Linked DNA regions of Homo sapiens. The protein of the gene in region 1 interacts with the protein of each later gene in a pairwise test. Each region holds a gene or a part of one and is shown on either strand. Other genes may lie near its edges.

Evidence for each region.
Region 2: the proteins of SLX4IP (region 1) and SLX4 interact in binary tests that used the Homo sapiens proteins (3 or more experiments, as listed by UniProt).

What each region holds. Positions count from the first base shown.
Region 1 is NC_000020.11:10,434,950-10,446,995, reverse strand, and holds the start of SLX4IP (protein SLX4IP), read right to left. Parts: upstream 11,692-12,046; 5' UTR 11,543-11,691; intron 1-11,542.
Region 2 is NC_000016.10:3,582,561-3,594,606, forward strand, and holds part of SLX4 (structure-specific endonuclease subunit SLX4), read right to left. Parts: intron 12,040-12,046; coding exon 11,893-12,039; intron 10,306-11,892; coding exon 10,139-10,305; intron 8,751-10,138; coding exon 6,442-8,750; exon of another isoform or gene 5,710-6,441; intron 5,109-5,709; exon of another isoform or gene 4,376-5,108; intron 2,312-4,375; coding exon 2,209-2,311; intron 951-2,208; coding exon 537-950; intron 134-536; coding exon 1-133. UniProt on the Homo sapiens protein: Regulatory subunit that interacts with and increases the activity of different structure-specific endonucleases.

The DNA.
Region 1 (12,046 bases):
TCATAAAGGAGTTTTTTAACTAGACAGAGAAAATGTAAACCATAAAGAAAAAGAATGACAGCTTTGGCCATATTGAAATTAAAACTTTTCTAAGAAAACTGGGAGAAAAATATTTGCAATCCATATCTAACAAAGGATTTCTATCTAGAATACATAGTCTCAAAATTCAATAGTAAAAAGCAACAGTCCAATCAGAAAATGGGCAAATGACAAACAGATATCTCACCAAGAAGGATATACAGATGGTAAAAAAGCATATGAAAAGATATTCAACATCATTAGCCATGGGAAAATGTAAAATAAAACCACAATGAGATATCACTACATATCTACCAGAAAGACAAATAAAAAACAATAACACCAAATGCTGGTGAGGGTGCAGAGAAAATAGATCTCTCATATATCACTGGTGGGACTGTAAAAGTGGTACAGCCACTCAGGAAAAGTGACTGGAAGTTTCTTATCAATCTAAACAACCCAAAAATTGCTCTCCTCAGAATTTATCCCAGAGAAATGAGAACTTAGGCTCACGTAAAAACTTGTTCAAAAATGTTCATAGTAACTTTTTTTTTTTTTTTTTTTTTGAGACAGAGTCGCACTCTGTTGCCCAGGCTGTAGTGCAGTGGCCCAATTTCGGCTCACTGCAACCTCTGCCCTCCGAGTTCAAGTGATTCTCTTGCCTCAGCCTCCCAAGTAGCTGGGATTACAGGTGCCTGCCACCACACCTGGCTAATTTTTATGTTTTTAATAGAGACGGGGTTTCACCATCATGGCCAGGCTGGGCTTGAACTCCTGACCTTGTGATCCACCCACCTCAGCCTCCCAAAGTGCTGGGATTACAGGTATGAGCCACCGCATCCGGCCATCATAGTAACTTTATTCTTAACAGCCACAAACTGGAAACAACCCAGACATCCTTCAACGTGTGAATGGTTAAACAAACTGCAGTACCTTTATACCCTGGCATATTACTCAGGCAGAGGGAATAAACTATTGATACATGCAACTTGGATGGATTTTAAGGAAATAGGCTGAGTTAAAAAAAAAAAAAAAAAAAAAAAAGCAATCTCAGCCAGGCACAGTGGCTCATGGCTGTAATCCCAGCAGTTTCAGAGGCCAAGTAGGGCAGATCACCTGAGGTCAGGAGTTCAAGACCAGCCTGGCTAACATGGTGAAACCCTGTTTCTACTAAAAATACAAAAAATTAGCCGGGCTTAGTGGCATGTGCCTGTAGTCCCAGCTACTCAGGAGGCCGAGGCGGGAGAATCGCTTGAACTCAGGAGGCGGAGGTTGCAGTGAGCCGAGATCACGCCACTGCACTCCAGCCTGAGTGACAGAGTGAGACTCCATCTCAAAAAAAAAAAAAAAGGGCAATCTCATCGGCTGGGCATGGTGGCTCACATCTGTAATCCCAGCACTTTGGGAGGCTGAGGCGGGCGGATCATGAGGTCAGGAGTTCAAGACCAGCATGGCCAACATGGTGAAACTCCATCTCTACTAAAAATTAAAAAAATTAGCCAGGCGTCTTGGTGCACACCTGTAATCCCAGCTACTAGGGAGGCTGAGGCAGGAGAATTGCTTGAACCTAGGAGGTGGAGTTTGCAGTGAGCCAAGATCGCGCCATTGCACTCCAGCCTGGGCAACAAGAGCAAAACTCCATCTCAAAAAAAAAAAAAAAAAAAAAGAAAGAAAAAAGAAAAAGCAATCCAACAGAAAAATGGGGAGAGGTGGTCCCCAGAGTAAGGTGCCCCTGCCTCCCAACAAAGTCTCTGCAGGTCTGGCAAGGCAGTAGGGGGTGGAAGGAGAGCTTCTCATCCCTTCTGTTATTTAGGCCTTGACAACCACTGTGCAACATCCAACCATGAGACTTGTATATCCTCTGGGAGCTGAGGGGCATGTCCCTCACTATTCTTTTACAAAACCCAATTAGTTGTGATATCTAAACACAGAAGAATTGACGGAGAATCTGTGGGGAACACATGTTCTCTTCCCTTACTACATGCACACAGCCTGTTATCTGGGATGGAACAGATGACAGTCATGGATGGGCCCATCCGCCTCCCACGAGAAGGAAAAATCACAACATGGTGCTATGGTCTACATGTTGGTATCCCCCCAAATTTATATGTTGGAACCTAATGCCCAGTGTAATAGTATTAACGGTGGGGACTTTGGAAAGTGATAAATAATGAGGGCTCCATCCTCATGAATGGGACCAGTGCCCTTATTTTAAAAAAGGCTCAAACAAGCTCCCCAGCCTCTCTACCTTATGTGAGGGTACAGCAAGAAGGTATCATCTTCGAAGCAGAAAGCAAGTCCAGGCCAGGCGCGGTGGCTCATGTCTGTAATCCCAGCACTTTGGGAGGCTGAGGCGGGCGGATCACGAGGTCAGGAGTTCGAGACCAGCGTGAACAACATGGTGAAACCCCACCTCTACTAAAAATACAAAAATTAGCTGAGCATGGTGGCACACACCTGTAATCCCAGCTACTCAGGAGGCTGAGGCAGGAGAATCACTTGAACCCGGGAGGCAGAGGTTGCAGTGAGCTGAGATTGTGCCACTGCAATCCAGCCTGGGTGACAGAGCGAGACTCCAGCTCAAAAAAAAAGAAAGAAAGAAACCCCTCACCAGACAGTGAATCTGCTGGTGCCTTGATCTTAAACGTCCCATTCTCCAGAACTGTGAGCAATAAATTCCTATTGTTTATAAATTACTCAGTCTAAGGTATTTTGTTATGGCAGCACAGGCAGACTAAAACACATGGTGATGCCAGCAGCTCCAGACCCCTACAACTACAGCCTCTTAAAGTACCTCTAATCTCTATCCTTGTACTTCCCCATCCCCAAACCCAACATTAGAGGTATCTGAGCATAAGTCCCCTATTCAAAACTCTTCACTGGGATTTCCCACAGCATCAGAAGCCCTTTTGTCAATGCTTGTATTAGTCTGTTCTTGCAATGCTATAAAGAACTACCTGAGACTGGGTAATTTATAAAGAAAAGTGGTTTAACTGGCTCGCAGTTCTCCAGGCTCTACAGGAAGCATGGCTGGGGAGGCCTCAGGAGACTTACAATCATGGTGGAAGGCAAAAGGAGGCAGGCACATCCTACATGACTGGAGCAGGAGGAAGAGAGAGAAGAGAGAGGTACTATACACTTTTAAACAACCAGAGCTTGAGAGAACTCACTATCCTGAGAACAGCAAGTGGGAAATCTGCCCCCATGAACAATCACCTTCAACCAGGCCCCTCCTCCAACACTGGGGGTTACAATTCAACATGAGATTTGCTCAGGAACACAAATCCGAACAATATCAGTGCCCCTGCCCAAACCTCCATCTTATGGCACAGGCAACTTCACACCTGTAATGCCACCACATAACCAACTCCTGGCACATGTCCTTGAACATGCAGCTCCAGCTCTCCCTGCCTTCACCCATGCATGCCGCACTGTGGAATGTCCTCTCCTAAAGCGAGTTGAGTTATCCTCTGAGACCCAACTCAGATGCCACCTGTTTCTTGGAGCCTTCTATGAACCAAGTGAATTGCTCCTTCTCTGGGACACACCTGAACCACCTCTACTCTCACGCTTAGCCCACTGAATTATAACTAACTCTGGTCCTCTCCCTGACTATAAGATTCCCAGGGACAGGGTCCATTCATCTCCTCTTTAATATTTGGGGTGTGGCACTGTTATGCATTAAAAGTTTGCTGACTTGGGTCCATTGATGTTACTAAATCAGAATGTGGTTTTTTGTTTTTGTTTTTGTTTTTTTTTAGATTTATACCTATTTATCCAACGTATCTTTACTGTCCCTAAATTCCAAATTCCACAGTAAGCCTTCCAAAAAAGAGGTCAAGCACTCTGGACCTATTTCACCAAATAAATAATACTTCAGTTATATATAATCATACAGCCAAAGCTGAGAGTTGTAATTCATATAAACACATACCCAGAAGATCCTAGTGTTTCATATTGAAAATAATGGGCAACAGATTAGAGGTGTGGTTGAAGTTTATACCACAAAGATGATGTTTTTGGTGCATAAATTTCTTTGTCTTTAAAATACTGGCATTTTAACATTCATTTAAATGGAAAAGATATTATTAGCTTCTATCTTAATTAAGTTTTAAATCAAGGAACATCCTGAGGCTTTTCTAAATTTTTTTTACTGATCATTAAAAAGCAAGTGTGCACACACGCACACAAAAAGCAACAATGCATCTTCAATGATTATTTTCCTAGGCCCTCAAAGTTGCTTTCAGCAGGATGCAACAAGCTCAGTGACCAGGTTTACAGAATAAATGTTAAAAAGCCTTTGCTACCAGAGCTGGCAATTCAAGTCTAAATTCAGTGGCATTTTTATTTTGTTGCCTGTTTTTAAGAAGTGTAGGACAACCCAAAAAGATCAATTTTCCAAATATCTGAAAGTATATAATTTACATAAGTATGCTAAGTTAGAGTATATTATAACTTACAAATGATGCCTCATCTTCTATTGTGCATTCTTGAGTCCACTCTCTCAGGCCTGAAAACAAGCATTCTTTAACAAAGAGGAGACTTTGATAGGGTATGACCTACCAAAAATATGATTACATGTGTGTTTTTAGTGGAGTGAGAAAGATCCTAAGAGCTTTAAAAAATTAATTTGGGAAGGGAATGGAAGTAGATTAAACAATATCACATGGTTGTCCTGTCATTTAAATACAAAGCAGAGATAAACTCTAATAAAGAAAGTCAATGACCCTCTAGATTATTCTGTGGGAAAATCTAAGGCACTCTGAAATTCACATTTGTCTTCTTTCTAGTGTTGCTGGCCTGTGTCACAAGCAAATGCTCTCATTAAATAGACCAGAAATTAACTTTAGGTTTCTAATCTCCAGATTTCAAATTTTATCTAGGAAATTATTATGCTTCTTTCTATCATCTTAAAAAACTTTCATTAGTTATGGGAACAGAAACAGAAAACAGCAAAGGCAAAGCCCTAGAACTTCTGAAGTTACAGCTATAATTCAAGAATGAGAAATCATTTCACTGTTGTCCTCTCCCAACACATGCACCAATCTTACCACCAAAACAACCAATATCAAGGAATGAATCACAAACTTAACAAAAGACCAAGGAAAAATGACAAATGAGCAAAGGCCTCACTGGTGACCACTCAGATAAAGGCTGAAAGGCAACTTCAGTGTAAAAAAGAATTAGTTTTTGCTATTATTCAGATGGTAATTCTGAATGCCAAAGTTTACTTATAAAAAAAAAAACAAAAACAAACACGTCAGATTCAACACTGGAAAGAGGATAATGCAAGTAACAAAAAAATTAGAACTTTTAAAAATCCTTTGTCACTAAATGTAAGTCAAACATTGATACTCTACCAAGAATAATTCCATGGAACAGTGCTACCTTTTAGTTACTCTATACTCTCAACCTAGTCAGTTGACCCATGATCTGAGCCTCCCCTTCCTGCTGTGCCCACAGAAAATCCCCACCAGCCACTGCATGGGATGCTTTACTAATAGGCAAAATTTAGTAGGTTTTCGTTGTTGTTGTTGTTTAGAGACAGGGTCTCGGTCTGTTGCCCGGGCTGCAGTGCAGTGGCGTGATCACGGCTCACTGAAACCTCAACCTCCCCAGGTTCAAGTGATCCTCCTGCCTCAGCCTTCCGAGTAGCTGGGACTACAGGTGTAAGCCACCATGCCCAGCTAATTTTTGTATTTTTTGTAGAGATGAGGTTTCGCCATATTGCCCAGGCTGTTTTCTAAGTCCTGAGCTCAAGCACTCCACTCGCCTCAGACTCTCAAAGTGCTGGGATTACAGGTGTGACCCCACCATGTCCGGCCTGAATCTAGTTTTTATTTAATACCTAGTCAGAAACAGACATAGGCACCCACACCTGATGCATGTCCTTAGGTTCTTGTAAAACACATCCCTTCAAATTCTGACTCTTCGTATGACCTGAGACAGGCTATTCAACTCCTTTAAGTCTCTGGTTTTCTTACCTCTGAAATGGGATAATAACAACAGTTTCTATTTCATGGCTCCTGTAAGGATTACATGAGATCAGATATGTAATTATGGGGCCTAGTGCCTGATACACAGTGGATGCTCAGTGTCTTAAACGGAATCATTCCAACAACAAGAGCACAAGCAAACAGCACATGATCAATCCACTTTGTAACCCAAGAACTCTGATAACTAATGTTTTCCAGTCACCTTTACATAGAAAAAAAAAGTTCTGATAATCATTAATAAAATAGTTTTAAAATCTAATCATTTCAAAGCAAAAACTGTTATGATGGAGAACAGATCACTGGTTGCCAAAGGTGAAGGGGTAAGGAGTACTACAAAGGGGTGGCAGAAGGGAAGTTGGGGAGGAAGGAGCTGATGGAACTGTTCCATGTGCTGATTTCGATAGTGGTTACAAAACACTCAATGCACTGATTAAAACTCTGAAAACTACATACCCAAGAATAATTTTATTTTACATAAATTAAAAATAATATTTATTTATTTATTTTTTAGTTTCTAGGTTTTTTTTGAGACAGAGTCTCACTGTGTCACCCAGGCTAAAGCGCAGTTGCACTATCTTGGCTCACTGCAACCTCTGCCTCGTGGGTTCAAGCAACTCTCCCACCTCAGCCTCCCAAGTAGCTAGGATTACAGGTGTGCACCACCATGCCCAGCTAATTTTTGTATTTTTAGTAGAGACAGGGTTTCACCATGTTGGCAAGGCTGGTCTCAAACTCCTGATCTCAAGTGATCCGCCAGCCTCGGCCTCCCAAAGTGTTGGAATAACAGGCGTGAGCCACCGTACTGGGTCTGGAATAATTTTTAAATGCAAAAAATAAAAAAAAAATGCAATCTTTTCTAACTAGAAGATAAATCAAAAGTGACACAAATGAATTTCTATGTCCACGATATTGTAATAGCCATATTCTATATATTATCCCATAATTAATATGAGTCAAATCCAATTTTAAACCACCTCTGATTTATTCAAGCACAAAACGTCAATACTAAAATAAACACAAGTAACCGCTTTTACATAATAGAAGCAAAAAGACTTTAGAAATATACTTACATCAACTCAAAATATAAGTGGTACTCCCCATCTCCCTGACAAAGGGGAGTTTTATGAAATTATAGGGTTGGCTTTATAGATCTCTACTTTGCTACCTAATAAATAGGTTTCTTCATGTGCATGAATTATTGTCCTCAATCTCTAAAAAGTAGACTTGAGGTTTAATACAGCTTAAAGTGATTAGACATGTACATGTCAAGAACTAACAATCCACTTAAAAGTCAATGCACACATTTTGCATTTTTAAAAAGCCATGTTTCATTCACAAAACATTAATTCATAAACTACATAACAGCAAAGGTGAAGTTTTAATACAAACATGCTTTATGACTATCACCTCTTGGTTTCACTGTATACAGAAGGCTTCATTACCAAATAATTAAACTTCTAAAAAAATTGTTAGGCCAGCCCCCGTGGCTCACACTTGTAATCCCAGCACTTTGAGAGGCCAAGGTGGGAGGACTGCCTGAGTCCAGGAGTTTGAGACAGGTCTGGGTAACATGGTAAAAACCCAACTCTACTAAAGATACAAAAAATTAGCCAGGCACAGTGGTGCGCACCTGTAGTCCCAGCTACTCGGGAGGCTGAGGCACGAGAATCACCTGAACCCAGGAGGTGGAGGCTGCAGCGAGCTGAGATCATACCACTGCACTCCAGCCTGAGAGTGGGACCCAGTCTCAAAAAAATGAAAAAAGAAAAAAACGTTTTTAATTAAAATAAGCTAGAGAAGAACAAAGCAATGTGAGAATGAGATTGTAAAAATAAGAACAAACCAAATGTCCATCAATTGGTGAATATGTAAACAAATTATTATATATCTACACAATGGAATACCGCTGAGTAATTAAAAAGGAATAAACTATCAAAACTCCCAACAACAAAGACGGTTCTCAAAATAATTATGATGGCCAGGCGTGTGTGGCTCATGCCTATAATACCAGTGCTTTGGGAGGCTGAGGCAGGATTGCTTGAGACCAGGAATTCAAGAGCAGCCTGTATAACACAGCAAGATCCTCTCTAAAACAAAATAAAAATTAAAAAAAAAAAATGATTATGATGATGATGAAAGAAGCCAGACTAACCCGTACCCCCCAAAAAGCACATACTCCAAGACTGCAGTTAGATAAAAACCTAGGAAATGTGGCCGGGCATGGTGGCTCACTCCTGTAATCCCAGCACTTTGGGATGCCAAGGTAGGCAGATCATTTGATCAGGTAGCCTGATCAACATGGTGAAACTCCATCTCTACTAAAAATACAAAGAAAAATTAGCTGGGCATGGTGAAGGAAGCCTGTAATCCCAGCTACTTGGAAGGCTGAGGCAGGAGAATTGCTTGAACTCAGGAGGCGGAGGTTGCAGTGAGCCAAGATCGCACCATTGCTCTCTAGTCCAGGTGACAGAGGGAGACTTCATCTCAAAAAAAAAAAAAAAAAAAAAAACACACACACCTAGGAAATGCAATGCAAACTTATCTACAGCGATAGATCAGAGGTTTCCTGGAAGAGGAGTGGCTGGAGGGATGACAATGCGGCAAGAGGAAACTTTTAGGGGTGATGGATACCTTCATTATCTTGATGAGGTGATGGTTTCACTGGCATAAACATACCAAATTGTACACTTTAATATGTGCATTAACTGTATAACAGTTATACCTCAATAAAGCTGTTTAAAAGTACTTACAGAAAAAAAAAAAAAGGCCTCTTCCAGGCCTGGTATATTGTGTTTATATCACCCTCTTTTCTAAACAAGTTCATATCCCGAAAAGTCACAGAACTGTAATACCTTTCCCCTGGTGATTTGCATGCATAAACAAAACCTTAAAGCCCAGAAATTTAATTATCATAAAATTTAACAATAGTTAATTAATATTTACATGGCTGTGACTATGTGCCGGGCACTATGACAAGCATTTTTCTTGTATGAATTTATCTAACGTTCACATCAACCCTATCTTACAGATGAGGAAACTGAGGTAGTGAAGGGATAAGTTATCTGATCAAGGTCACAAAGCTGATTAGTAGAGGAGCTAGAATTTGAACCCAGGGAGTCTAGCTCTAGAGTTAATTTCCTAACCCATCATGTTCTACTGCCACACACAATATGAGGTATGTTAATACTAGAAGCAATGAATATTGTACTTGTAAAATACTTTTCTTTCTCACACTCACAGAATATAAACATTCACTACAATTGGCAACACCACATGAAACTAAATAAAAAACAACAGTGGCTTTATTTTCTTTTCCCAATTAATAGATGGAGGGAGGAGAAGCAGAAAGGCTGGACAACTTTCTTAGGACACAGAGCAAATAATTGGCAAGTTGACCAGTTACTGGGAAGCTGGTTCCTTACATTCTTAATCCAGATCTTTTCATGGTTTTCAAAATCCCGATTATTTTAAGTAACACCATAAGGGAGAGAAAATCTAACATAGCAACATAAAACGTAAAAGTTGTTTCTGTTTTCTCATACTCCTTACTGGCTCTTTAATTTCATCCAGAGGGTCTCAATCTCTGCAGATACAGGGCTGGAGTCTGTTTTTAAAGCTCCCAGGTGATTGTTACGTGCAGCCAAGGCTGAGAACTCTTGATTTAGTCTTCTCATTAAAGAAAGACAGAAGGCAGCTGGGTGCAGTCGCTCATGCCTGCTTTCCTGCACTTTGACAGACCAAGGCAGAAGGATCGCTTGAGCCCAAGAGTTGGAGGTTACAGTGAGCTATGATCCCACCACTGCACTTCAGCCTGGGCAACAGGGTTATACCCTGTCTCAAAAAATAAAAATAAAAGAAGTAAAATAAAATGGGAAGACAGAAGAAAGCAAGGTGCCACAAAAAGCTTTGGTAAACCAAGGCCCAAGGTTTTCCAAGTCAGTATTGAACTGCTGTCCACATGCAAACTTTTGAGTTCAACTTTTAACAAATTAAAAGTACAAATATGCATACAAGATATGAGAAAGCAAGAAGCACAGTAAACAACTTTTAAAAAAAAAACGCAAACCAGTGGTAAATTGGATGCTAAGACTTACAGAGAAAACCCTACATTTCAGATGTTATAACAGAAATTACATATAAGTATATTGGGATGACAAAATCTCTTTTCAACTTTTTGGAAAGCTAAATTGACGCCCTAACATCAAGTCAATGAACTAAAAGCACAGAAAAAAACCTGTCAAATATCCATTGCATTTAGAACATGCAATAAATTGATAATACACTGTGAATCTAGTTAAGAAGCACGGGTTGAACAAAGAATGGGCCAGGCCGGGCGTGATGTCTCAGGCCTGTGATCCCAGGACTTTGGAGGCCAAGGCGGGTGGATCACCTGAGGTCAGGAGTTCGAGAACAACCCGGCCAACATGGCGAACCCTGTCTCTACTAAAAATACAAAAATTAGCCGGGGGTGGTGGCGCGCGCCTGTAATCCCAGCTACTGGGAACGCTGAGGCAGGAGAATTGCTTGAACCCGGGGGGCGGAGATGGCAGTGAGCCAAGATCGCGCCACTGCACTCCAACCTGGGCAACAGAGCGAGACTCCATCTAAAAAAAAAAAGAAAGAAAGAAAGGGCTGTATCTTTAGCCCATGCCCTGAATCAATGTTCCTTGAACTTTAAGGTACACTTCTTGAGGAAGATTCTGATTCAGCAGCTCTGGGGTGAGAGTCATGAAGTGTAATTCTAACAAGCTCCCAGGGATGCTGATGCTGGTGGTAGGTGAAATGAACTTGGAGCAACAAGGCCCTAAGTAACTGGAATATTAGTTTTAACGCTAGCCAACTGGCTTACAAATATCGTTATGTCTAGGATCCAAGAAGTAAGTGTCAATACCATTAATTCCTACACCCGGCCAAAAAAATTAAAAACTAAAAATAAAAAAAAATAGTTCAGGGGAAGGAGAAAGCAAATACTTGTTTATACAGTCTAGCAGTGCTAAGAACCATAAAATACTGTTATTTGTCTCAACCTAGTAGATGTCAAGGTGATAAAATGTAGGCTCCATGAGTTAATGGATTTTTTTTAGCTAACTCCTGAATCCTTATGGCCTAGCACAAATTAGGTACTCAAGAAATGCAATGAATAAATGAATGAATGGGAAGTATATACAAACGCAATCTGTATTTACCTCACATCTCCAAAAATGTCTGGGAAGGGGGAGGTATTTGTACTGCTGGATGCAGGTAGCCATGATTTGATACAAATACCTGGCCCATCTACTGCATTCCCTTTGTGCAAAGACAGTTAACTTTCCTGAATAATATCTCCACCGTAATGCCCATGCTCATGGCATCCTGATGTTTAGCAACTTTTTGGCTTTTTGAAAACAATGAAGAAAGGTGGAAGTACAGGGAGAAGGATTCGGAAAAGTCTCAAAAAATCAAAGCCAAAAACCAGGAGGGAGGAGATGGGCAAACAGTTCAGTTCACTTGAAGGAACATCTGAGGTTGTCAGAGGTCCATGTGCTTACCTATGATGGTGGCGGGGTTTGGGCTCGGGCTTTATATGTTTTGTTACTGTCCAGGGTCACTGGCGGAGTAGTACCTGGCTGTGGAAACTCGGACTACACAGGTAGCCGGAACTGCAGCCAACCTTCAGAAGCTTAAGGGAAGCACTTTCGCGCTTACTTCCTCCTTCCCAGGGTCTCCGCGCGCGTTTGGGAACTCAGCCGCCGCCCAAACACAAAATGATCTGGGCAGCTTCGCTGCAGGATTGAGGCCACAGCCAGGATTTAAGATGGCAGCGAAACACTTCGATGGCCCGTGGAATCTGCCCAAAAGAAAAATGGCCTCTGTTCAGAATATCGCGGCTTTCAAAGTGGGCCCAAAACAAAAATGGCGCCGGACGCAGGCTATTTTTAAAGGCTGGGACCCCAATGACTCTCATTAGCAAATAACGTATCATGGTAACTCACGGTGCTAGGCAGTTGAACTGACCGAGAGAAAAAAAAACGCTTTTCTGTGGTGTGTTTTCT
Region 2 (12,046 bases), on another chromosome or scaffold:
GGAGCGGATGTAGCACCTCAGCGCCTCGTCTGTGTCCGCCGCCTGCACGGCTGCCTGCGAGGCACTGACCTCCCCCTCGCCCTCCTCTTCACCTGCAGACTCAAATGCCGCTCCAAACTCACAGGAGGAAGAACTGAAAAGAGCCAGACCAGGACGTTGTGCAACCCCTTTCTCTCCAGCCCCTGAGACCATGAGCCTCTTTAAAGGAAGGAAGGTGTCTACGGGTCCCATGGAGCCTGGCCTGTGGCACGATCCCCAGCAAGGCAGGACGGGCCTGAGAGATCCCTGCAGGCTACGCCAGCGGGATCCTGCCCCAGCCAGAAATGTCTAGCATGTGGGGCAGGAACCAGGAGGCCTGCGCAGGGCTGGGGTCAGGGAACCAGCCCCCTAAACCCACCTGGTTTTCCCACAGGTCAAACCCAGAAGGTGACGGGGGTTTTTGAAGATTGGCCATTAGGTCTCACTCGTGCCAACCCTCACGCCCACGGGCCAGAGGATACATGAGGCCACTGACCCCATCGCATCCATCCGGTTACCTCTGTGAGCTCAAGGAGCTGTCACTGCCATCCACAGAGGTGGCCACGGATTCTTGAGAGGCTGGGATCTGGGCGTCATCATTGAGGCCTGGAGGTGCCTCCTTGGTGGGCGACCTGCTTGGGGGTGTGATGCTTTCATGATGCTTCCTTTGATGTCGGGGGCCCTTGGTCTTAGCAGGTCCCTTGGGCCTATGGGCCCCAGGTCCTGTGGTGGCCTCCTGCTGGGCATGGACCCCTGCCCTTGAAGGCTTGTAGGTCTGGGAGGCGAGGGTCTGGCAGTGAGGCGCCTGCAACAGCGGCTGTGAGGACTGGCTCTCGTCCTCGGAGTCTGAGTCCAGGGTCTGGTGAGTGTACTGGAATATCTCCTTCAGCTTCAGAACCATCTGGCGTTTAGGCAGAGGGCGGACTCCAAACCTGACGGAGGAACAGGTGGATCTCAGGACCCACCCACACAGCTGGTCCACACTCCACGTTCCCTATCTTAGCAAAGAGTGATACCCAATGCATTCAGCGAATGGCTTGTGTGACAAACCATAGATGCCTGACTTCTGTGAGCATCAGAGGTTAGTGTCTATTCTAGGCGCCAACTAAGCTTACTCTGAATATTCCAAAAGAAACATTGCCAGCCAGGCACAATGGCTCACGCCTACAATCCCAGCACTTTGGGAGGCTGAGGCAGGAGGACAGTTTGAGCTCAGGAGTTCAAGGCCAGCCTGGGCAACATAGCAAGACCCCGCCTCTACAAAAAATACAAAAATTAGCCAGGCGTGGTGGTGTCACCTGTAGTCCCAGCTACTAGGGAGGATGAGGTAGGATCGCTTAAGCCCGGGAGGCTGAGGCTACAGTGAGCCAAGATCACATCACTCTACTCCAGCCTGGGCAACAGAGTGAGATCCTGTCTCCAAAAATAAAAAATAAACAAAAGATATGCTGCTCCCAGTTCTGAGGGATGGTGGCAGCAGCAGCTTCCCCGGGTGCCCGAGTGGAAGAGCAGTGTCATGTGGATGTGAGAGTTAAATGTTCTTTTAAAAAAAATCAGGCCTCCGCCGGGCACAGTGGCTCACGCCTGTAATCCCAGCATTTTGGGAAGCCGAGGCGGGTGGATCACGTGGTCAGGAGTTCGAGACCAGCCTGGCCAACATGGTGAAACCCCGTCTCTACTAAAAATACAACAATTAGCCTGGTGTGGTGGCGTGTGCCTGTAGTCCCAGCTACTCGGGAGGCTGAGTCAGGAGAATCGCTTGAACCCGGGAGGTGGAGGTTGCAGTGAGCCGGGACTGCGCCACTGCACTCCAGCCTGGGCGACAGAGCAAGACTCTGTCTTTCAAAAAAAAAATCAGACCTCCTCACTCAGACTGCTCTGGCTAGGGGGCCATTTCCATCTACATGGAATATGGGGACCTGCTGCCCAGGGGTGACATGCACGAATCCTGTGTGTTGCCTCCCTGGGGAATGGTACGCAGAGAGAACTGGGAGGCTCACCCCGGCACCCAGCAGTCACACATGCTCCCTAAGGAGCTGACTGCAGACCTTTCTTCCCAAGCCCAGGCCAGCTGCATCCACCAGACCCAGAGACCACACGGGGGGCCCTTCCGCCCCCAGGTGTGTGAAACCCAGTTACTTATGGGAGGGAAAAGACCACTGTGGGCAACAAGCTTTGAAGACCGCCAACCTATCCAGTTCCTTCTTCAGCACCGGCGTCTCCATAATGGAATACTGTGGCATCGGCGTTATGGGCACTTTGGGGGGCAAGTTCTTCTTCCGATTAGCACCTTCTGGGTAAAACAAAAGAAGCACACGTTTTAGCATGAGGGACACGGATTTCCCACATCTGATCCCAGTAGCGTGACCAAGAGGAATAATGCACTTGAAGATAACCCAAGCATCGTTTTGCTCCATGAAAGCAACAGTGGTCACCCCTTCCCTGTCTGGAGCAGGGGCTTCCCAATGATAGCATCGGTGACACGCACTGAGGACCACACCTTGTATAACACGGGTGCCGGGTGAACAGAGCTCCTGGGGCCACTGAACCCAACAGCCCGGCACGTGACTAAAACTTATGCATGTAAACTTAAAAATATCTGACCCACAGTGACAACTTGAGACAATGGGCCACACTGATACTCTTCAAACAGGCTTAGACATCAGTTTTGCTTTTTAAAAATAATTCATCAATTTAAAAAAACCCAGTTAAAAAATGGGCAAAGGGGCCGGGCGCGGTGGCTCACGCCTGTAATCCCAGCACTTTGGGAGGCCGAGGTGGGCGGATCACGAGGTCAGGAGATCGAGACCATCCTGGCTAACACGGTGAAACCCCGTCTCTATTAAAAATACAAAAAATTAGCTGGGCGTGGTGGCGGGCGCCTGTAGTCCCAGCTGCTTGGGAGGCTGAGGCAGGAGAATGGCGTGAACCTGGGAGGCGGAGCTTGCAGTGAGCCGAGATCACACCACTGCACTCCAGCCTGGGCGACAGAGCAAGACTCTGTCTCAAAAAAAAAAAAAAAAAAGGGCAAAGGATGTGAACAGACATTTCTCCAGAGAAGATCTACAAATGGCCAATAAGCACATGAAAAGGTGCCCGACATCATTAGTCATCAGGGAAATGCAAGTCAAAACCACAGTGAGATACCACTGCACGCCCACTAGGATGGCCATAACAAAAAACACAGAGGGTTTGGGCAAAATGGCAGAACCCTATCTCTACAAAAAAAAAAAAAAAAAAATACAAAAAAAGTTAGCAGGGTGTGGTGGCCCAAGTCACCAATGTGGGCAGCTGTTTGTGGCTGGTTCCAGCTACTCGGGAGGCTGAGGTGGGAGGATCACCTGAGCCAGGAAGGTTGAGGCTGCAGCAAGCCATGAACACGCCACTGCACTCCAGCCTGGGCGACAGAGCAAGACCTTGTCTCAAAACAATAACAACAACAACAAAAACAGAATAACAAGTGTTGGTGGAGATTTAAAATGGTGCAGTCACTTTGGAAAACAGTCTCGCAGTTCCTCACAATGCTAAACACAGTTGCCATATGACCCAGCAATTCCACTCCTAAGTACAGAACCAAGAAGAAGGAAAACATGTCTACACGAAAACTTGCACATCAATATTCCTAAGTGGCATTATTAATAACCACAAATTAAAAACAACCCGTGTGTCCACTAGTAGATGAATGGATAAGCAAAATGTGGCATACCATCAGTGGGGTATTAGACATACAAAGGAATGTATGCCCAAAGCCAGGGCAACATAGCAAGACCCAGTCTCTACTAAAAAAAAAAAATTAGCTGGGCATGGTGGCAGCTGCCTGTAGTCCCAGCTACTCAGGAGGTTGAGGTGGGAGGATCACTTGAGCCTGGGAGGTCGAGGCTACAATGAGCTGTAATTGCGCCACTGCACTTCAGCCTGGGTGACAGAGCAAGACCCCTGACTCAAAAACAGGCCAGGCACAGTGGCTCAGGCTTGTAATCCCAGCACTGTGGGAGACCAAAGTGGGTGGATCACTTGAGGTTAGGAGTTCGAGACCAGCTTGGCCAACATGGTGAAACCCCATCTGTACTAAAAATACAAAAAAATTAGCCGGGCATGGCATGGCGATGGGCGCTTGTAATCCCAGCTACTCGGGAGGCTGAGGCGGGAGAATCGCTTGGACCCAGGAGGTGGAGGTTGCAGTGAGCCGAGATCGTGCCACTGCACTCTAGCCTGGGCAACAGAGAGAGGCTCCGTCTCAAAAAAAAAAAAAAAGAATAAAAAGGAATAAAATACTGATCCATGCTACAACATGTATGAATCTTGAAAACTGTATGCTAACTGAAAGAAGCCAGACACAGACACAAAAGGCCACATATTAGTTATATATGGCTCTGTTTATATGAAATGTCCAGGACAGGCAAATCCATAGAGACAGAAAGGTTCTTGGTTGCCAGGGCTGGGGGAAGGGGAAGGTGAGAGACTGCTCATGGGTACAGGATTTTTGAGATGATGAAAATGTTCTAGAATTAGAGAGTGGGGACAATTGTACAACACTGTGAATGTACTGAGAAGCACTGAACTGTCCATTTTAAAAGGGTGGATATTATGGTATGTGAATTATATCTAAATAAAGCTGTTACTTTAAAAAATAATAGGCTGGGCGAGGTGGCTCACGCCTGTAATCCCAGCACTTTGGGAGGCCGAGGTGGGCGGATCACCTGAGGTCAGCAGCTCAAGACCAGCCTGATCAACATGGTGAAACCCGACTCTACTAAAAATACAAAAATTAGCTGGGCGTGGTGCTGGGTGCCTGTAATCCCAGCTACTCGGGAGGCTGAGGCAGGAGAATCCCTTGAACCCGAGAGGTGGAGGTTGCAGTGAGCCGAGATAGCCCCACTGCACTCCAGCCTGGTGACACATTGGAAACAGTCAGACTTTGGTTCTTCTGCCTTTTATGACCATGGAGCCCTTTGAGCCCCCGATGAAAGCGGCAGGCTCTGTCTCCTGAGAAAAGCACGATTCTTCCTGTGGCCGCAGCGTCGTCCTGAAGCCCACCTCAGATCTGCTGTGCAGCCTCCTGCAGCTGTTCTCACAGCACTGCCTGGGAACTGGTTAGAAATGCAAATTCTTAGTCACCCTCCCGAAGCAAGGCTCTGGGGCAGGCTGGGCCACGGGCGTGCTATAAGAAGCTCTCCAGGTGTTTCTGAAGCCCCTGAGGGCCGAGGACACTATCAGTGGCCTCATTCATCTGGATTTTGGGAGGAAATGGGCCCCCAGGCCGCAGGCAGGTGCTCACTCACAGCCTGGCCTTTCTCCCAGTCATGCTCAGCCCAGCCCGGCCTGTCCTTGCCCTCCCCGGAGGTGCCTGGATGGGAGCAGCAGCACCGAGGGGGCCGACACCTGGGGCTCTGACTCTCCCCGGGGACTGAAATGAGCAGGGAGGTGGCATCCCTGCACCTGGGAGGACCAGGAAGAACAGGCCTAACAGCCTCTCACACTTGTCCCACCTGATTCTTTTTTTAATTGAGGTGAAATTCACATAAAAAAATCGTAAAGGGAATAATTCAGTGGCATTAAGTATTCACAATGTTGTACAACCATCACCTCTATCTATTTGCAAAACATTTTCACCACCCCAAAAGGACACCCTGTATCCCATAAGCAGTCACTCCCCATTCCCCCTCCCTCCAACCCAGGCCAACCACTAACCTGCATTTTCTCTGGATTTGCCTATTCTAGACATTTCATATCCATGAGTGCAGACAGTACATGACCTTCTATGTCTGGCTTCTCTCACCCGGCAGCATGTTTTCTGGGTCGTCCACGCGGTAGCGTGTGGCAGTGCCTCACTCCTCTTTGTGGCTGAACACTATTCCATTTTCTAGTGGTCTAGATGGACCACGTTTGGTTTCCCTGTTCATCTCCTGACGGGCATTTGGGTTGCTTCCAGCTTTTGGCGATTGTGAACAGCGCTTCTATGAACATGCATGTCTGAGTCCCTGTTTTTAATTCTTTTGGATATACAGGTAAAAGTGGAATTGCTGGGTCCTGCAGTCAATCTACGGTTAACATTCTGGAGAACCACCCTGGTCCAATCTTAAGGCATGCCGATACTTGCTGAATGAGTTGTGGCCTTTGGAGGTGCCGGCTCCGTGTTCTGGAGAAGGGTCCACAGATGTGGATTTTTAACACATGCCCAGGTGAGCACTGGAGCCAGGCAAGTTTGGGAAACACTGACTTACTGGCTGAGAAGTGTAGCATGAGAACCAGCCCGGCTCTCCTCCACTGTGGAGGGGAGTCTGGAAGGCAGCGGAAGTGTCATGCCTCAGGTCAGCAGGCATTCAGAGGGCAGCCCCTGGGTCTCATGACTGATCTTCCCACCCTCTTAGTGTAAAATAGTAACAAAGACAGTCCCCTTCCCCAGCTCTCCTGGCTACTCACTGGGTGTCTCTAACCCTTCGGGCTTCTGAGCTCCACCAGCGCTTGGCATCTGGGCCGGAGGAGGGGTCTCTGGAGGCCTCTGCTCTTCCCCGTCCCAAACGTCCCACAGAGCCGAATTCAGAAAGCTCGGCCTGCTATTCCCCAGGGAGCCCGCGCCCGAGGACTTCTCTTGCAATTTCCTCTGGGTAGTGCAGCTTCCTCGGATGGGGGTGGTGTCCAGGAGTCCCGGGGAGCGACAGTCACGGCTGTCGGCGGCCTCGTTCATCCTGCGGCTGGGGCTGCTGGTGCTCAGGGGGCCGGTCCGCTCCAGGTTCCAGTGGTCAATGGGAATTGGCGAGAGGGGCTCCATGTGCCAGCAGCAGTCGTCAATTGGAATTGGGGGGTCACTGTCCAGTGGGGGGCTTCTGTTGGCCTGATGGGAGGCCACCTCCTGCTCATCGTCACTGTCTCCGACTTCCACCACTTCACCCGCTGGGGTCTGGTTCAGGAAGCTTGGCCCAGGCGGCGAGTGTTTCAGGAACCGCCTGCTGAAGTGGGCGCGGTCCCCTGAGATGGGATGTGGAGCCAGCGGAGAGGAGTGCGGGTGGCCCCCGGGGTGGGGACGGGAAGGGCTTCTGTGGCCTTGCCTTCTGCCGTCAGAAGTTCCTGGAGAGACGGGAGTGAGGCATGAGGACGGTGTCTGGGGCGGTGGTGTCTGGGGCCTGATGACAGAAAACTTCTGTGCGACTTCGTTCCCTTCCCTGTTTCCTACTGAGGCCCTGGGCGTGTGCTGAGTCACCGCCTGCACGGCCAGCCCGCTCCTGAGGCTGCTGATTTGGGTCTGGGAAGAACAGTCACGGCTTCTGCTGGCCAGCGGGGTGGCGGGCACCAGCCACGAGGTGTCTGTGGTGCTGGCCTCGCTGGGGCTGCTCTCACGGTCACAGAACAGCCAGGGAGCCCCTCTCCTGCCCAAAGAGCCCCGATTCTCCGGCAGCGCCCCCTCATCCTCCTGCTGCAGCACAGCTTCGCTTCTTGGTGGGCTCTGGGAAGGTTCCTGATCTGCATCAACATCAATGATGGAAAACAGCTCACAGGACCTAGGGCTAATTTCTAGAGCTTTCTTTTCTTCCAGAGGATCACTAGAAATGGACTTCATTTTGGTTTGTTCTAGCTCCAGCTCCTCATCCGAGTCCAGTAAGAGGATGACCTCATCTTCTTCGTTCAGTTTGGATGAAGATTTCTGAGATCTGGAGCTCGAATGGTCAGGATTTGACTGGGTTAGGTCAATAGACGGAGATTTTTCTGGGAACATCAGGACCCCCTTATTTCTGCACTCCAGCACGGACCGACGCTCTTTGCCTTTCTGGTGCCCTGGCTCTTTAGACAGCGTGAGGATGCTCCTGTCCCTTTTCTGCTTTGATGGCACAGCTGGAGACAGCAAGGTTGGGGAGCCCACCTGGGAAGTTCCGCCACGGGACCGGGGTGTTGACAGGGACGACCCACTTGTGTGATGAGACCCGCGGGGACTCCCGCCCTGGGGAGGCCCCAATAGGAAGCGGCACGGGTGCGGTGGAGATGCCTGCCAGGGAGCCAGGCGATGAGAAACCTCCAGCCCCCTTTCCCTGACAGCGCCACTTTGTTCCTCGGGCTCACTTGTTATTTGGGACGGCTCTGAGATCTCTCCCTGAGTTGATGAGAAGAGCTGTTCGTAATCCCCGGCATCATCTGAGTGCGGAAGAGAGCCTTCTTTTCTCTCTGCCTGGCAGTCCCTGGAAGGGCTGGAGCAGCTGGAATGGCCAAGCGCCTCCTCTGGCGCCTCCTGCTCAGGGGCCTCTGCTCCCCGTGCCCCTGAGTGCTGGCCCTGGGGTGGCGGGAGAGCGCACTGTCCCATCTTCTCCCAGGTGGTGGCGGCCTCATCTCTTCCTGGCTCCAACGGCTCCATCTCCTCCACCTTGTCCCACTGTTTCTGCACCTGGACACCTGCTAGGAGTTGCCCAGAAACCGGACTGCCACCCTCCAGCCAGTCAGCGTCCTCGCCGGCACCCGCTGCCCTTTCTTCCTGGAGAAGCTTTCGCTGAGTAGCTGCAAATTCATAAATTTCTTCCATTTCTGCTTCATTCACGTTTTCTTGATCTTCTTCGTGGTCCTTGGATTTCAACAAAGTCTCCGCTTCCTCCTCTTCATCTGCCCACATTGACCTCAAGAGTTCCTGGAAATTCTCGGCCCTGCTTTCGCAATTCTCTGCTTCCTTCTCCTCCCATGGTTTGCCCTCTGAGTCAGTGGCAATAGGCACCTGTTCGCACAGGTGAACGAGCTCACTCACGCCAAACCTGCAACACGAAACATCGACAGTCATCGCCCCTCTGCGTGGAGATGGGCTCTGGGTGCCCCGGTGGGGTGGCGGACCAGAGCAGAGTCTTCACCAGGAGGAATGACCATGACCCAGGCCCTGCTTCCCTTTGAAGACGGTGTCCACACTCCTTGCCAGAAACACCCAGGCCACTTAGTTCCAGAAACCGGGGACTGACAACACTTAAAGCAGGGCTTCCTAACTATAGCTGCAGACATAAAGGGGTGTGTCGGACTGAATGTAAGGTAACAGGGATTGGCAGAGCTACAAAACTGGGGAGTCTGTGCTGCCTCAGAGGCTCTTAAGATATGGTGTCAGAGCCAGGCATTGTGGCTCATGCCTGAAATTCCAGCACTTTGGGAAGCCGAGGATCACTCAAGGCCGGGAGTTTGAGATCAGCCTGGACAACATAGAAAGTCTCCATCTCTACAAAAAAATGTAAAAATTAGCCTAGGAGTTCAAGGCTACAGTGAGCTGTGATCATGCCACTGCCATCCAGCCTGGGCAACAGCAAGAGACTCTGTCTCTAAAAGGATAAAAAAGGTCATGCATGGTGGCTCATGCCCATAATCCCAGCACTTTGGGAGGCGGAGGCAGGAGGATTGCTTGAGGTCAGGAGTTCAAGAACAGCCTGGGCAACACAGCGACACTCCGTCTCTCCAAAAAATAAAAAATAAATGAAAAGACATGGCATCAGACACAATCCACAGCACACCAAGTCCTTGAGTCAGCCCAGGCCAACGGGCAAGCCAGCCAGCCACCTGCTTGAAGGCTCTGTGGCCCGTCAGTATATTTCCAACTCCAGAGGCTGAGCTGTTCCTTTCCTAAGAAAGCAGCGGAGGGAGGACGCAGGCTCGGATCAGCGGCCCAGGCCCTGTCCAGAGGCACAACACTTGTCCCTCTGAGCTGCTGCCTCTCTCCTAAGATGCTGGCTGGACAAGCCAGGAGAGCTGTGGCATCTGGGATGCAGCCTAAGCATTCTCTCCATGCCTGTTTTATGGGACTCTGGAAAGGACTGCTGTTGTTCAGGTCTAGTGGTGGAACAATCACTGAGCAGCAGTGTTGGGGGGCGCTGTAGCCAAGGGCCATTCTCTTATCACACCTAGGGGGTTAAAAACCACGGGACTCAATAGAGTCCTCCTGATCCAGTGCTTGGCACCCCTGCAAGGGTCTGTTCTGGCCTGACTTTCACCTAACATGCCCTGTTCCACAGGGTCATCACTGGTCATGGACTTGGGATTAAAAGGTATAAACAGGACTGTTAGTTCTCTTGGCCTCAGCCCCGAGCCCTCTGCAGCACAACCCTCCAGAGCTGTTAACCTGCCAGTCCTCGTCAGTTAATTTCAAAAGCTGGGGAGCAATCCAGACCTGTGGGCCAGGGAGCTCAGCTCAGAGCTAAGGCCAGGAGGAAGGCCAGTGTCCGCAGTGTAGAGATAGTGCAGGAACGTGCGGGCGGCCTCGGTGCTCACGTCACCCAGCAGGACACGCTGGGTCAGAACCCCGTCCTCTACAGCGGAGAAGCCTTCATTGTTCACCTGCAGGTGAAATGCAACACAGAGGGTTTACTGATCAGAGAGTTGTAACTTGGAGCAAAGCAGACGGTCTGGGGTGTCCTGCAAGTCACTAGTCTTTTTATTTTTCTTTTTAGAGACAGTGTCTCCCCTTGTCACCCAGGCTAGAGTACAGTGGTGTGATCATGGCTTACTGCAGCCTTGAACTCCTAGGCTAATTTTAAATTTTAATTAATTTTATTATTTTGAGTTGGAATCTCTCTCTGTTGCCCAGGCTGGAGTGCAGTGGTGAGATCTCGGCTCACTGCAACCTCCACCTCCTCGGTTCCAGCGTATTCTCCTGCCTCAGCCTCCCGAGTAGCTGGGATTGCAGCCGCCCACCACCATGCCCGGCTAATTTTTTATAGTTTCAGTAGAGATAAGGTTTCACTATGTTGGCCAGGCTGGTCTTGGAACTCCTGACCTCAGGTGATCCACCCTCCTCGGCCTCCCAAAGTGCTGGGATTACTGGCGTGAGCCACTGCGCCCAGCCCCTAGGCTAATTTTTAAATTTTTTTGTAGAGATGGGCTCTCACTGTGTTGTTCAGGCTGGTCTTGAACTCCTGGCCTCAAGCGATCCTCCCACCTTAGTCTCCCAAAGTACGGGGATCTCAGGCATGAGCCGCCGTGCCTGGTCCCTAGTCTTAAAAGCAGCTCCATGCCCCAGGAAAAGCATTAGCCACTGTTTATGCAGATTTTTGGCCAATAATTTTACAGGTGAGGCCTAACACTCCTCTTTTGTCAAATCGTATTGGGACTAGATATTCCAGGACCCCGTTAAGAGTCCTCCTGATAGACACATATGGGATCCAGAACTTTGACAAAGACTGAGAATAGCTCCCTGAGTTCCTGCCCACACTCAAGTCAAATGCTTTCAAGTCAGAAGGCAGGTTCATCAGCAACTCATCCCTGAGGAGATCAATTATGAGCCTTTGTAATTATGCAAATAGAGAAAAGAGAAAACAATTCTGGGAAACAATGGATTTTCTTTTTGTTTTGTTTTGTTTTTGAGACAGAGTCTTGCTCTGTCGCCCAGGCTGGAGTGCAGTGGTGCAATCTCAGCTCATTGGAAGCTCCGCCTCCCAGGTTCATGCCATTCTCCTGCCTCAGCCTCCCGAGTAGCTGGGACTACAGGCGCCCGCCACCATGCCCGGCTAATTTTTTTGTATTTTTAGTAGAGACTGGTTTCACTGTGTTAGGATGGTCTTGATCTCCTGACCTTGTGATCTGCCCGCCTCGGCCTCCCAAAGTGCTGGAATTACAGGCGTGAGCCACCGCGCCCGGCCAAACAATGGATTTTCATTCAACAGAACGAAAACACTGATGTTTCCCAGTTGTGAGGCCATCCCCTCACACCCACTCCTAACCTCAAGCGTGGGTCTTTATCTCTTCTCCACGTGTTGCAGAAACGGATGGTTGGGAGGGAGAAGGTGAGAACATGGTGGGGCAGGAAGTGAGGGAGAGTGGGGGGGTGGAAAGGGCACCTGAGACATGGGAAGACCTGGTTGGAGAAAGGCAGGAGGAGAGAGGGAGAGAGAGGAAAGGAGGGCACACGGCAGCCCACGTACTTACATACTGGATGAGGAGCGGGCATCGGGCATAAAGCACGAACTTGTGGGCGTAAAGCACCTCCCCGCTGTCCGTCTGAAACTGGACATCACTCAGGTGTGGGTTATTGACCATGGCGCCAAAGTCAGCAACCAGCAGCCCGAGGGAGAGCTGAAGC